3 linked regions of the Homo sapiens genome follow. The protein of the gene in region 1 purifies or fractionates together with the protein of each later gene. This does not show direct contact. Each region holds a gene or a part of one and is shown on either strand. Other genes may lie near its edges.

Evidence for each region.
Region 2: the proteins of PRICKLE2 (region 1) and EPB41L1 purify together in Homo sapiens (co-immunoprecipitation; one large-scale study listed by IntAct). This does not show direct contact.
Region 3: the proteins of PRICKLE2 (region 1) and INAVA purify together in Homo sapiens (co-immunoprecipitation; one large-scale study listed by IntAct). This does not show direct contact.

The regions. Positions count from the first base shown.
Region 1 is NC_000003.12:64,218,272-64,223,569, reverse strand, and holds part of PRICKLE2 (prickle-like protein 2), read left to right. Parts: intron 1-5,298.
Region 2 is NC_000020.11:36,206,740-36,210,239, reverse strand, and holds part of EPB41L1 (band 4.1-like protein 1), read right to left. Parts: coding exon of another isoform or gene 2,460-3,500; intron 1,940-2,459; coding exon of another isoform or gene 1,832-1,939; intron 753-1,831; coding exon 342-752; intron 1-341. UniProt on the Homo sapiens protein: May function to confer stability and plasticity to neuronal membrane via multiple interactions, including the spectrin-actin-based cytoskeleton, integral membrane channels and membrane-associated guanylate kinases.
Region 3 is NC_000001.11:200,897,900-200,901,399, reverse strand, and holds part of INAVA (innate immunity activator protein), read right to left. Parts: intron 3,094-3,500; coding exon of another isoform or gene 3,000-3,093; coding exon 2,945-2,999; intron 1,928-2,944; coding exon 1,803-1,927; intron 1,297-1,802; coding exon 1,180-1,296; intron 464-1,179; coding exon 241-463; intron 1-240. UniProt on the Homo sapiens protein: Expressed in peripheral macrophages and intestinal myeloid-derived cells, is required for optimal PRR (pattern recognition receptor)-induced signaling, cytokine secretion, and bacterial clearance.

The DNA.
Region 1 (5,298 bases):
CAGCCAGAAAGAGTAAAATAGCATTGTTTGAAATGGTGTGTTTATAAAGATTTACCCATGAAATGTGAGGGAATAAAATAGAAATAGAGGAAGAAAGATGCATTTATGGAAGCTTAAAGAATGAGAAGGGAACTTAGAGGTTAGATAGTATGAGATGATATTTATCCAGGGCTCAGACTCTGGAGCTGGAAAGAGCTGAAGATACTTAAAGCTACCCATTCCTGCCAGTAAAGTGGAGAGAGCAATGGAATCTATAGTTAGGGTGATAGGTGTAAGGATTTAATGAGATGACCTATGCAGAGCACAGTGGCAGCCACATAGTAAATATTCAGTAAATATTAGCTGCTATTGTTGTTGTTGTTGTTGTCATTGTTACCATTTTGTCATTATCATTATAAGTGTTGTTGCTAAAAAACAGTATTGAAAAGGCAACATGTTCACATCCATTTGCCTGCAGAAAGGTTTTGCTAGCAGAAAAGATGCCATCTCTGGTACTGTTATATCCAAATGATTCCCACTCAAAGAAACTTTCCACCCTATTGATTGAGTTGACAGAATAAAGTATATTATCCAGAACTACTGTATTTCACAGAACTGAAAGTGACCAGCTGGTATAATGAAAATCATTTAGAACTAACTGGGGCTTAGGCAGCCTTAAAGAAGGCATCCTGTTTTGGCAGCTGACAAGTCACATGTAGAAAGCTGCGGGGTCCCAGTTGGAATCAATGCATTTCTAGATTTCTCTTCTGCTTCACCTATGCATGTGAGAGACAGTCCTTTTCTTTCTTAATTCTTTTCAGTGCAGATATTGAGCATTTTCTTCTCTATCCAGGGAGGCCATTGAATATGTGCTTAACCTGCTGGTTGGCTCCTCAGAAGTTCCAAGGCTGAATTTTTGCCACCATCTGGGTGCCTTCAGCTTATGGGTTGGCTGCTAAGGGAAAGGAATAGCCCTCCCCTGCCTGCCTGCCTACCATGGCCCAGTCTGTCTGCTTTTGTTTTGTGTCACTGCTATGGCACAATTTTGCCAGGCTCGTGGTCTGCCTCCTTCATGCCGGTGGGCCTACTTCTGTCACACAAGTGGACTGCTGTTTCTCCCTTTCCTCCCAAGATCTTTCTTTTTAATTTTGGGGAATTAGAACTCTGACACAGGGATCTGAAAGACAAAAGTGAATTACAAGAGTGAGAGGAGTCTGCCATAAAATTCTTTCCCAAGAAACTCGGAACTGGGAGTTGGTCGTTCCTGGTTGCTACTGATCTTTAGTAGAGTTGTGTTTTGCACGGAGAATAATATTTATACCTTAACCACAGCCCACCTCCCTTACTTCCTGATGGGAGGTATGATCTCAGGAGAGTTGCCTGACCTCTCTGAACTTTGGCTTCCTCATATGAATATTGGAAATAAAGTCCCCTGAATGCATGGGATTGCTGTGAAGATAGCGGCTATAATGCCCTTGCCCAATTCCTGGTACTGACTGGATGTTGAGCATATTTCCCAGTTAATCCCGATCTGTGAACAACAGGGGGCAGTAATTTTAATATTTATTTAACGGAGAAACTGAAGGCCAATAGAATTAAATTAGAAATCAATAACAACAAGGTATTTGGGAAATCCAAGTAAAATGACATAGCAGATGACAAACCGTGGTACCCGTCTAGTGCTTCTTTTAATAAACATCAGTTCCAAACACTCTGAATTTGAGAAGGGCTCAATGACCCAACTGCACTGCCTGCCTCGAATTAGCAGAAACCTCTTTATTTAGTAGCCCCCAGGCTGTGGTCATTTCTTCTGTGCTGTCTGTAAGCACACAAGAGTCAAAAGGCTCTGTCCCTCAGATAGGAATTCTGGGTGGCAATTGGATAAAGACTTTCTTTTGTGCTTAAAGATCCACTGAAACCTTTCTCTGTTCATTCCCTCCATGACTGTGGTGCTTATAAACAGGGAACTGCTGGTGACCATGAGCTATTTGCAAACTAAGAAGCTTGAGGATGAGATATTGGCCAAATCTGTTTTCTTTGTTGATGCTTTTGAGTGACATTTGCCCCTTTGCTCTGTCTTAACCTGTAAACATTTAAAATGAAATGTTCTGGTTTTTATGCTGTGTGTGTGCGTGTGTGTGTGTGTGTGTGTGTGTGTGTGTGTGTGTGTATGAATCAAGCAGGGGTGAAGATCTCTTTTGGGGATTGAGTCAGTCGAGTTTGGAGACTTCGTTTTCTTTTTTCTTTGGCCTATTGTCTGAGCAGTTTATTATTTGGCATCTGAAAACCATAGGCTTGCTTGTTGTGTTATTTCCCTGGGGATAAGGCAGAGGAGAAAAAAGCAAGGCTGGAGAGAGGGGAGAGAGTGTGTGAGTTTGGATGGAGCTTTAAGAGGAGGGGAGGGAAAGGAAGACAGAATGGAGAAGCAGCTGGGAGAATATCAGAGCAATTGCCAATCCACCACGAAAGTGCAAAGCTGAAGGTTCCCTTTGGGTGAAGTTGCAACTCAGAAGGCAACTCTGTTCTCCTTTAGCTAAAAACTCCTCTCCCCATCTGTCCTACAAAACTCACAGCGAAGCCATTTTAAATCCGAAAACCCTCCTTATGACTAAGCACTGCACATGTTTTCCACTAGAGCACCATGGACCATTTCTAAAAGTACATTAATTAAAAGGAGCAGATTTTCAAGTACAATATGAGCCTGCCTTTCCCTGGTGGGTGTAGGGGGTAAACTTTAGCGCATGTTTGGCTATGAAGTCTATAAAGATCAAATTGGCTGAACCAAGCACTCAGATATGAGTGTTGACTTGGAAGATGAAACCTAACACTCCAGGGGGCACAGAATCCAGAGATGTCGCTGGTTGGAACTGGAGGCATGAAGAAAATCAGGGCTGGCCTCGTTTGACAAAGCATTGCCAGAGTCATGCTCACTCAGAACAGCAGAGTGAACCTACAGGAGGAAGCAATAGTCGGGGGTTCTCTGATAGCTCCCTTCTTCCTGGTGCTAGTGTTTGAGCTGCTGTATGTGTTTGAGCTGCTGTATGTAAGTGTTTGAGTGCTGTATCCTGGGGCACTGAAGGCAGCACAGGAGCCCTTTCTTTATCTCTTTGGACATGGAGCAAGAGCCACTTCCGGTTGGTATGTTTTCCAACCCAGCACCCAGCCTGCCTCGAGTGATAGGTGGCTGACTTGAGTTGCCTCGATTCCTCTCACACTGGGAGTGCTATTGTCTTCAAGTCACCCTCCTCTCCTCGACTCCTTAAAATCAAACCTTGTAAATATTTTCCAGCCCCATCCAGGGTTAAGGGTAGCCAGGGCAGAAATTCTTAGCATTTCATTTCAACTGGGCAAGATGCCAATTTTTCCAGCTCTTTTCTTGGCATCCATTCATCAGTTATGAGTCCTTAGAGATGCCTGCTCATGAAAGTTCCAAGACTTAACTAAGAAACAGCCTATTTTCTATGGTCACAAAATCTGGTAAGGTTTTAAGGTAACTGTTAATATAGAAGGCAATGTATGTTTTGGGTGTCTATGTGTCTGTGTATAGTCTATGGTTAATGTTGATGTGGATGTATGATAACTGTCACAGACTGAGCGCCTACTGAGTGTTTGCTACGAAAGATGCTTTATGTAAACTTGTCTTGTTAATTCTTACAGCAATCATGCAGCTAGATATTATTGGTTCTATTTAGTAATTGAGAAATCAGGACTCCTGGAAGTTAAGTAACTCGTTCAAGCTTACACAGAGAGTAAAGAGTAATGCTGGGATTCGAACCCAGGATAATTAGAGTCCAAATCCTGTCCACCATTCTAGGCTTCTTTATACTTTTCATTATAATGTCCCCTGGGGATGTGTTTGTTTCTCTTATATAGCTCCTTTATGAATCCCTCATTTGAGAAACACCTCATTATTTAGCCATTGAATTAAAATCTCGTTGGTTGATCTTTGGTAAAGTTGGAAACACACAAGAGAATATGTCAGACTTGAAACAGAACATAGGGGTGTCTTCACCTTCTGCTTTTAATGTGGCTTTTGGAATGAAAGTGTGAGATTGCTTGGAAAGTCAGAAGACACCCTGAGATGAGAAGTAAAAACTGCAGGCAGGTGGAAGAAGTCCTTTGCTGGACTACAGGGAACATAGGGAATTCTTCTGGTCTAAACTTGTGGCTGTGGGCAGAGAGATGGGAGTTCGGAGAGAGGGAAGCCAAGCTTGTTGCTCTTGATCGCCAGTTGTGTGCACATCAGGTTCTAACTAAAATGTATGTTTCCGTTTTCTGAGCCTCAGTTCTTTCATCTTGAACATGAAGGTCCTAAATCAGGTGATCTATATGTTGTCTTCCAGCCATGACCTTGATGAGTGCAAACTTTCAGAATGAATTCAGCCTCATCAGGGAAGGAGTGTAATTTGCACTGTTGGCCACTCTTGGCGGGGAACTAAAAGGTCAAGTTTTAGATCAGGACCTGACTTCTCTGTGTTGTGAATATGTGCTGGAATATGAGAAGTGGTAGCCCCCCAGAGAATGGCGGGAAGCTTCCTGGAAGAACGTCTGACCTTTGGATGCTTTCCACTAGTGAAGAGGGGGTGTCAGTGGGCAGTGTGTTGGTGTTGCTCGTTCACTTTCAGAAGCTCTCCAGGGCTTTGTTATGTATGCAAGCATCCTACAGAGTGCTAGAGACCAAGGCTTCTCAAGTTTAATGTGCATCTACCTGGGGGCGTTGCTGAAATGCAGATTCTGAATTTTTAACAAGCTCCCCTGGGATGCTGATGCTACTCCTTCTAAACTACCTTTATAATAGGCATAGAGGAAAGAAAATTTGACTAAATTCAGAAAGTCCAGAGTCTAGTTCCAATTGTCACTTATTTGAGTAAACCTCAAATAAATCCCTCAGCTGCACCATGACTCAGTTTCTCCATCTGCAGAGTAATAAAATAATATTTAATATTTAATGATTACTGCGTGCCAGGCACTGTGTTCACTAGGTGTTCACTGTTTTATGTGCTGTATTTTACTTGATCCTTGAATTAGGAGGAAGGGTTTGTTACCATCTGCATTCTGCAGTAACTAAGCACAGAGAGGTTGAATAACTTGACCGAGGTCACACAGCTAGTTAGTGGCCAACTTGGGATTTGAATTCATATCACCTGACTCTGGAACCGTCACAACTTACAGACATAAGAGATGTGAAATATCTTGGGACTTACTGTGTGAATGTGTGTGTAATTATATTATATGTACAATTACAAATATTTCAGGTACTTGAGATTATAAGAAGTAGATGTTTCCCAGATGAGGTTTTATTGTTTTTAAGTAAAAAAT
Region 2 (3,500 bases), on another chromosome or scaffold:
TGCAGGAGCCCCCAAGAGTCCACAGACGCATGCTCTCTGCAGGTGCCATGCAACACAGGTGGGGGGGCATGGGGTCAAGAAAGACCAGACTACCTGTCATCGCTCGACTTCAGCAAGCGATGGGGTCACAGGGTTAAAATACCAAGGAGCGCGTGTTAGGGGTAAACCGAGATGGCAAACATGCGAGCACAGAACCATGCTGTTCTGCGGAGGGGCAGTCATGCAACACGAGACAGAGCTTCAGGCTGCAGGCTGGGTGCTCGGTCTTCTCACGGGTGGCCCAGGGCCCTCTGAGCATGCGGTGCCCAGCGGGCCTGGCTCTTGAGGAAGCTCCACTGTACCTCAAACTGGGGCATATCCGGGGTGGAGCAGGCCCCTCGATCCGGGCTGTCCTCAATGCCCCCAGACTCATCATCCTGGCTGGGGGCCCCCTTGTTGAGATCCCGGGAGAACAGCAGGCCCTCAGTGTCCGAGTCGCTTTTGTCCCGGTCGAGCTCAGGCAGGCTGCGGGAGAAGTCTTCGAAGGCGCTGCCATGGTAGTCACCAATGACCGTGAAGTCCACCTCAGCCTCCAGGCTAGACGTAGAGCTGACCGTGATGCTGGAGCACTTGCGCTCAATGGCCAGGTGGTTGTCCTTCAGGAACACCGTGTCCCTCTCCTGGTCCTGGTCCTCATCGCCTGTGTCACTCTCTGGGGCCCGGGGACGTGGTGGTTTGACTTTCTCCTCGGAGCCCTCCCTCAGCCCTGCTCTCTATGGCCAGATAAAATCAAAAGAATGGGGATGTGGGGTGGGGAGAGAGAGAGAAAGAGAAATCAAGATGGTGAATGTCAGGAGAAATCTCGGGGCTGTGTCGACATCCTGAATGGAAGAGCAGGCCAGGAAATGAAAAACACCCCAGGAAAGGTTCCTTGAAATCATAACAAGCATAAAAAAAACAAAAACGACTCAAGAGTGGAGATGCCCCTTTCTGAGGGTCTCACACTGATGGCAAAAGCAAGTACAAAGCAAACGTCCTGCCAGTGACTCCTGGACAGGAGGCTCCATCCAAGGGTATTGGATCTGGGAGCTTATTGGAAGCAGCATTGCACGAAAGGCAGGGATGGAAGCCCGGACCCCAGGCCCATCCGTGCAGGTGGGCGTTGAGAAACAGAAACTAAGGAGGGAGATCCAGGGATTCAGGGAGACCCAGGAAGGGAAGGCAGAGAGGTTGGAGCCAAGAACTTTGAGGAACAAAAGAGGAAGCCAACATGTTTGTCAATTCCACTGAGTCTCCGGGGGAGGGGTCAGCATCGACTAGAGAGAAGAGCAATTCAGGGTCAGGCCTTTTGGGCACGAGCTTCTTGGGAGCTGAGTGCTACGCCAGCTCCACCCTGGGCTCCATGAGTGGACCACAGGCAAGTCAGGGAGTAGAGGCTCTGGTCCCATCAGTGTAATTGACAACAGCGGGCCAAGGCAGTGCCTCGGGGAACCAGCAACTCTTGTCCGACATACATACCTCTCAACTGGCCTGTCAGGGATTAAACACCACACACACATTTTTGGCTGGTTCATAACATTCTTTTTAAAGACCAACCTAATACCCATGAAAGATTTGTAAAGAACTTGGCTTCTGGTTCTAGGGATTCAGTGGGCTTAGACATTCACTTGCTAAGCGAGCCTCCATTTAGCCAGTTTCTGGAAGGTTGAGAGGTGTGAGGGAGACATTCCAGACAAGCCAGAGTTGAGCAGCACGAGAGGTGCTGCCACAGCAGGTGGGAACCTAAGGCGGCGATGCATCCTGGCCGGGTGAAGGTGACTGGGTCATCAGGGCACAGAGGGGCTGCAGAGACCTGAGGGCCCGAGGGGCTGGCAAATCTCAGGCGCCCCCCCTTCCCAGGGGTGTTGGCTGCTAAGTTGGTGGAGCGCTTCTCTTCCCTGACCGCATCTCCGGATTTGTTCTGGATTAGAGAAGACAGTTAGTCTTAAGGAGGCAGAAAGAAACTTGGCACTGGGACTGAGAGGGAACCAGAAGTGAAGGATGGAAACCTCTGGACTGTCAACTTTCCCAAGGCGGGAGAACCAGGGATGGGAAAGGATGAAGAAAGATCGCTGGACAAGCCAAGCAAGGTAGGCAGGAACCCAGCGGGTATGAGCGGCAAGGCAAAGCAGGTGTGTCATTTGCTGGTGGTGGCGCCACCTTCTCCATGGGGGTTGTGTGACCCTCTGGGCACCAGGTCACACCAAAAGCTGAGGGTCTTTGTGGCCAAGCTAACATGGGCCAAGCAGAGAAGCCCATCATTCAGCCTGAGCTACACCCAGGCCCGTTTAGGGAAAAAACTCACAGGGATGGATAAGCAGCCTCTGATTGCAGAAATGACGAGGGGCCACTGAAACATGCTTCTAAAAACTACAGAGCATGCGGCCAGCCCCCATGGGCGGGGAGCAGCGGTGGGGGCGGGGGCTCACGCGGCCAGTTACCCCAGTTCCAGTAGCTTCTGCCAGCGTGGTTTCACAGCCTGAATTGGGGGACACGGGCTCTAGTTCCGTGTGTGCTTCCTGGTAGGATGCAGAAGTGTCCTCCCTGAAGTGTCTGGTAGCCAGAGGTATCACTGTGGAATGTGTGGCTTTGGGGCTGGCAAAGTCCCCTGGGGGCTGGAGTTGGGCGAAGCCCAGGTCTGAGAGCGTACTCCGCTGCTGCTCTGCTTGTCCCACGGGTGCCTCTGAAGATACGTCATTTGGAAGGGACCTTGCTTCACCCTCACTCATTCGGCGAGTTTCAGCTCCGTGGGTCTCAAATATCCGAATTTTGTTGGCCACTGAGGTCTTGCTAATATCTTCTAGGGAGCCCTCTTGGTCCCCAGCCTGGAAAGAGGTCATCTCCCTTCGCTTCCCTGAAGGGAACCCAAACCCCAGAGGTATGCGCCCCTCAGCTTCTTCAGGGACTACTCTGGGCTTTCTGCTGGTGATGGGAGGAGGCCTGCGCTCACCTCCTGTGGCAGGGGACACCACAAACCCTACTTGGTCCTTGGGCTCTGGGCTGGCTTTCGAAAGATGGACATGTCTAAGAAAGGGCTCCCTGAGCTCCGAAGGCTCCCCTGACCCATGGGAGGTTGGGCTTGGAGAAGCTTCCTCCAGAGCTGCCAGGTCCTCAGAATGACCAGGGGAGGCTGGCAGGGGAATGATCACCTCCATGTGAAGAAATGCTGAAGCCTCGCGGTCCTTCAGCTCAGCCCCTCCTTTCTGGGTGGGAACCACTCCCCTCTCTTTGGGTGGGAAGTTGCCTCTGTCTGGTTTGACTGGCTTCCTGACATTCAGAGGGATGGCCCGAGGAAGGGCGCAGGCCTGGGGGTCGGGATGCACGCCCTGTCCTCTGTGAGGAGGGTGCTTCTTCAGTTCCTCTGTGGGACTTTCCTCAGCCTTTCCCAGCAAATCTCCACTCACGGGGGTCCCTTCCTCTCGGGCTGCGCTGGCTGTCAGGTGGGGAAACTCTCCTTCCACTCCCCACTGGGCATCTTCCCA
Region 3 (3,500 bases), on another chromosome or scaffold:
TTTTGAGGAGGATACGGAAGGAGAGAGTAGGGTGTTTTCTAAGGAGACGGAGAAGAAGACCTCACAGGATGGGGAAGCCTTGCTGGAGTTGGAGAGAATCAGGATGGGGTGGAGCTGAACCCAAGAATCAGCTTTACCCAGCTGGAGCCAAATGCAAAGGCAGTGGCACGGGGCTGTGCGCCCACCATCCCTCAAAAGCTCATTTAAGGAGCATGGCCCCCCTCAGGGCAGCCGGCTCACCTCGGCCCAGGGGGAGAGCAGCAGCCGGAGGTGGCTCGCTATTGCGCCGCCGCTCGACCAGGCAGCGCTGGAGCTCCTGCAGCTTCTTCTCCTCCTGCAGCATGGAGTGCTTCCGCTGCCGCCGAGCCTGCCTGCTGAGGTTCTCCTCCAGGCACAGCCGACGGGCTGCCTCTGTGATCTGCAGCTGCAGGGCCAGCTGGCGCTCCAGGCTGCTTAGGGGGTCCTGAGAGAGGGGGCAGGAGTGAGGCTAGAGAGAGGCAGGGAGATTGGGGGCCCAGAGGGTGGACAGCAGCCCTGACACAGTGCTCTAGGTCCCAGTCCTAAGCCCTGAGGACAGAAGAGAGGCAGACAGCAGCACCAATGGACGGACGTGGAGCAGAGGGTGAAGGAGTGGGAGGAGCCGAAAAGCAAACTTGTCAGCCTGAAAAGCTGGCATGGGCACCCACCCACCAGCCCACCTGCTGAACCGGGCAGGGTGGGAACCCAAGTGGGACACTTTCCCTCCTGACCCCAAAGGGTGGGGCAGGCTGGCCCATGGGAAACTGCTGCCATTGACGCCACAGGGGAAGGGCACCCAGGGCCTGACTGCCCCCACCTCCTCCTGAGAAAGGAGGACAGCCCTAGGGGCCAGAGTAACCTGTCTGAGCAGGCTATTGCCCGCTGGGTTGGTGGCTGGTGCTCTTAACTGATCTTCTGCCCAATGGGGTCAAACCCAGTGTCCTCCCTTGAGCTCCCAGCTCTCGGTTCCTTAGTGGCGCCCCTTCTCCACAGCCATTTGGGCTACATATTCATGGTGTCTCTCACCAACAGGCAGCCAAGCACCCTCACTGGGTGTGAAAGGGTGGAAGGGAACCTGCCAGGGTACTGAGCTGAGGTGTGGCGTCTCAGTGATCAGCTTTGGGGATCGAGGGGTACTGGCAGCTTCCTGAGGTTCCTCACCTCTCTGTGCAAGGCCCAGTCATCCAGTTTGTAAGCCGCTCCGATCCTGCGGCGAACCTTGGGGGCCTTTTCCCCTGGTTTGAGGGGATACTCCGCTGGCAAGGTGCCCGTCAGCTCCTGGGGAGGAAGCAGAGACCAGCCAGGTCCTCTCCACCTGCCCAGACTTGGCTCACTGGCCCCTGCACTGCATGTGCCTGCCTTCCATAGAAGCCCTGGTGGGACCACCCTCCACCCCACCTCATCCCATCCTCCACACTGTCTCTCCTGTCTTCAGACCCACTCTGCACTCCTCCCCTTTCCCTTCAGACCTCTTTCTGATCACTTCCTCCAGAGCTACACCGACCCGGGTTACAGCACTCATATGCACTTATGTCTGTGCAGTCCCTCTGCAGCCCCTGATGAACTTTGTTCTCTGTGCCTGGGCCCCTGCCTGGGTCTGACTCTTCTCCATCCAGCACAAGGTCAAACACTGCATCATGGGGACTCTGGGCCCCAGCCCCCAGCCTGATGTCCAGAATTCCCTCAAGAATGGGGCTCCCTCTCCCCAGCTCCCGCATCCCCACACGTGGCTCCACAGCTCCTGAGATGAACCCGATGCTTGTGTGTGCTGGCTGGGGCCTCACCGCTTCCCGAAGGCAGAGTCTCCTCAGCTCCTCCAGGCAGGCCTCCAGCCTCGCTTCCAGGGCCCTCTGCTGCTTGTGCACTGCATGGGTCAGCTCCTTCATTGGGGAGACCGGGCTGTCGGGGCCTGCAAGGGTTGGGGGGCACATGCTCAGGGAGGCTGAAGATGGAAGCCTCCTCCGTTACTTATTGACCACCCCTAGGGGAATGCACATGCACACACATGCACACACACACACACATCTCATGCCTGCCCACAAATTGCAGGCTGGCTGCTGTGGCCTGTGTCACAGCCACAAAACACCACGTCTCTTGGCTGCACAAATGTTACAACTCAGAAGGGAGGGTCGTCCCACCAGGTGACCTATGGTGGGGGAGTGCAGGGGAGGGAGTTCTGCCGGTGCAGTCCTCCCCCCACTCCTCCTCCCTTCTTCTTCCTCTTTTCCTTCTCCTTCTTCTTCCTGTCTCTCTCTCTCCCTCTCCCCACTACCCCTCTCTCTTGCACACACACATAAGCCTCTTCTTTCTTGTCCTCTGTCAAGACTAGGCCAGACTAGGCCCACAGGTCTGGCCAAACAGAGAGGCAAGACCTTCACATTGGCCAGATGATATATTTTTTTTGAGACGGAGTCTTGCCCTGTCGCCCAGGCTGGAGTGCAATGCCGCGATCTCGGCTCACTGCAACCTCCGCCTCCCAGGTTCAAACGATTCTTCTGCCTCAGCCTCCCACATAGCTGGGACTATGTGGTAGCCAGGATGGTCTCGATCTCCTGACCTTGTGATCCGCCCACCTTGGCCTCCCAAAGTGCTGGGATTACAGGCATGAGCCACTGTGCCTGCCTGAGATTTTTCAACTTCTCAGCTGGGGCTAAAGTTGAACATTGCAGATCCCTCTTCCAGATAGAACCAAAACTCCAAGCCAGTTTTCTCCAGGGAGGAAAACTCCACATGTCCCTGAGGCTCCAGCCCTTCCAGAACCTCCCCCTCCTCCCAGCAGAGGCCTCTCCCTCCCCTTCCTCTCAGCCCTTGGGAGTCTCAGCCCAGCCAGCCCTAGTGCCTGAGGGCTCAGGACTCAGGAGTCAGGGCCAGGGACCAGGGACCAGGGACTAGGGACTAGGGCAGGGGGATTTCCCTGAACACTCACCAGACTGCAGGATGATGCCACTGTCGGTGTCGCTGACCTCATCCTTACTCTCCATGGTGGATTTCTGGAAGGAGAGGGCACAGAGCAGGGAGGGGGGACACCGTGACCAGCCTGGGCCAGGTTGTGTAGGTAGCCTGGAGCTTCCCCAGCTTTAAAGAGAAAAGAGAACAATAACAAAAAAGCTAGATATGAACCATCTTGGTTACAAAAAGCTGAATAGATGCTTGAGAGCAGGGGAGTGGAAGGGAGGACTGTGCTTCAGGAACCATCTGGGGCAGGAGATTCTGGCACTGGGGGTGCTGACCTAGAGAAGGGGCTGTGGGCCTCACCAGCAAACCCTGTTCTCAGTGGGCTCTCAGGGGCCCAGCCTAACTCCCCTCTGGGCCAAAGTCCTCTAGGCCTAAGGGGGTCGACAGCTGTGGTAGCCACAAGAACCGCTCGACTGGGGAGAAGGGCAAGAAGGAAAAGAGCAGAGACAGGATAAAAAGGAAGGGGACAAAAAATGGGATGGGATAACAAAGAAAGGAGGAAGGAAGCCCAGCATGGTGGCTCACGC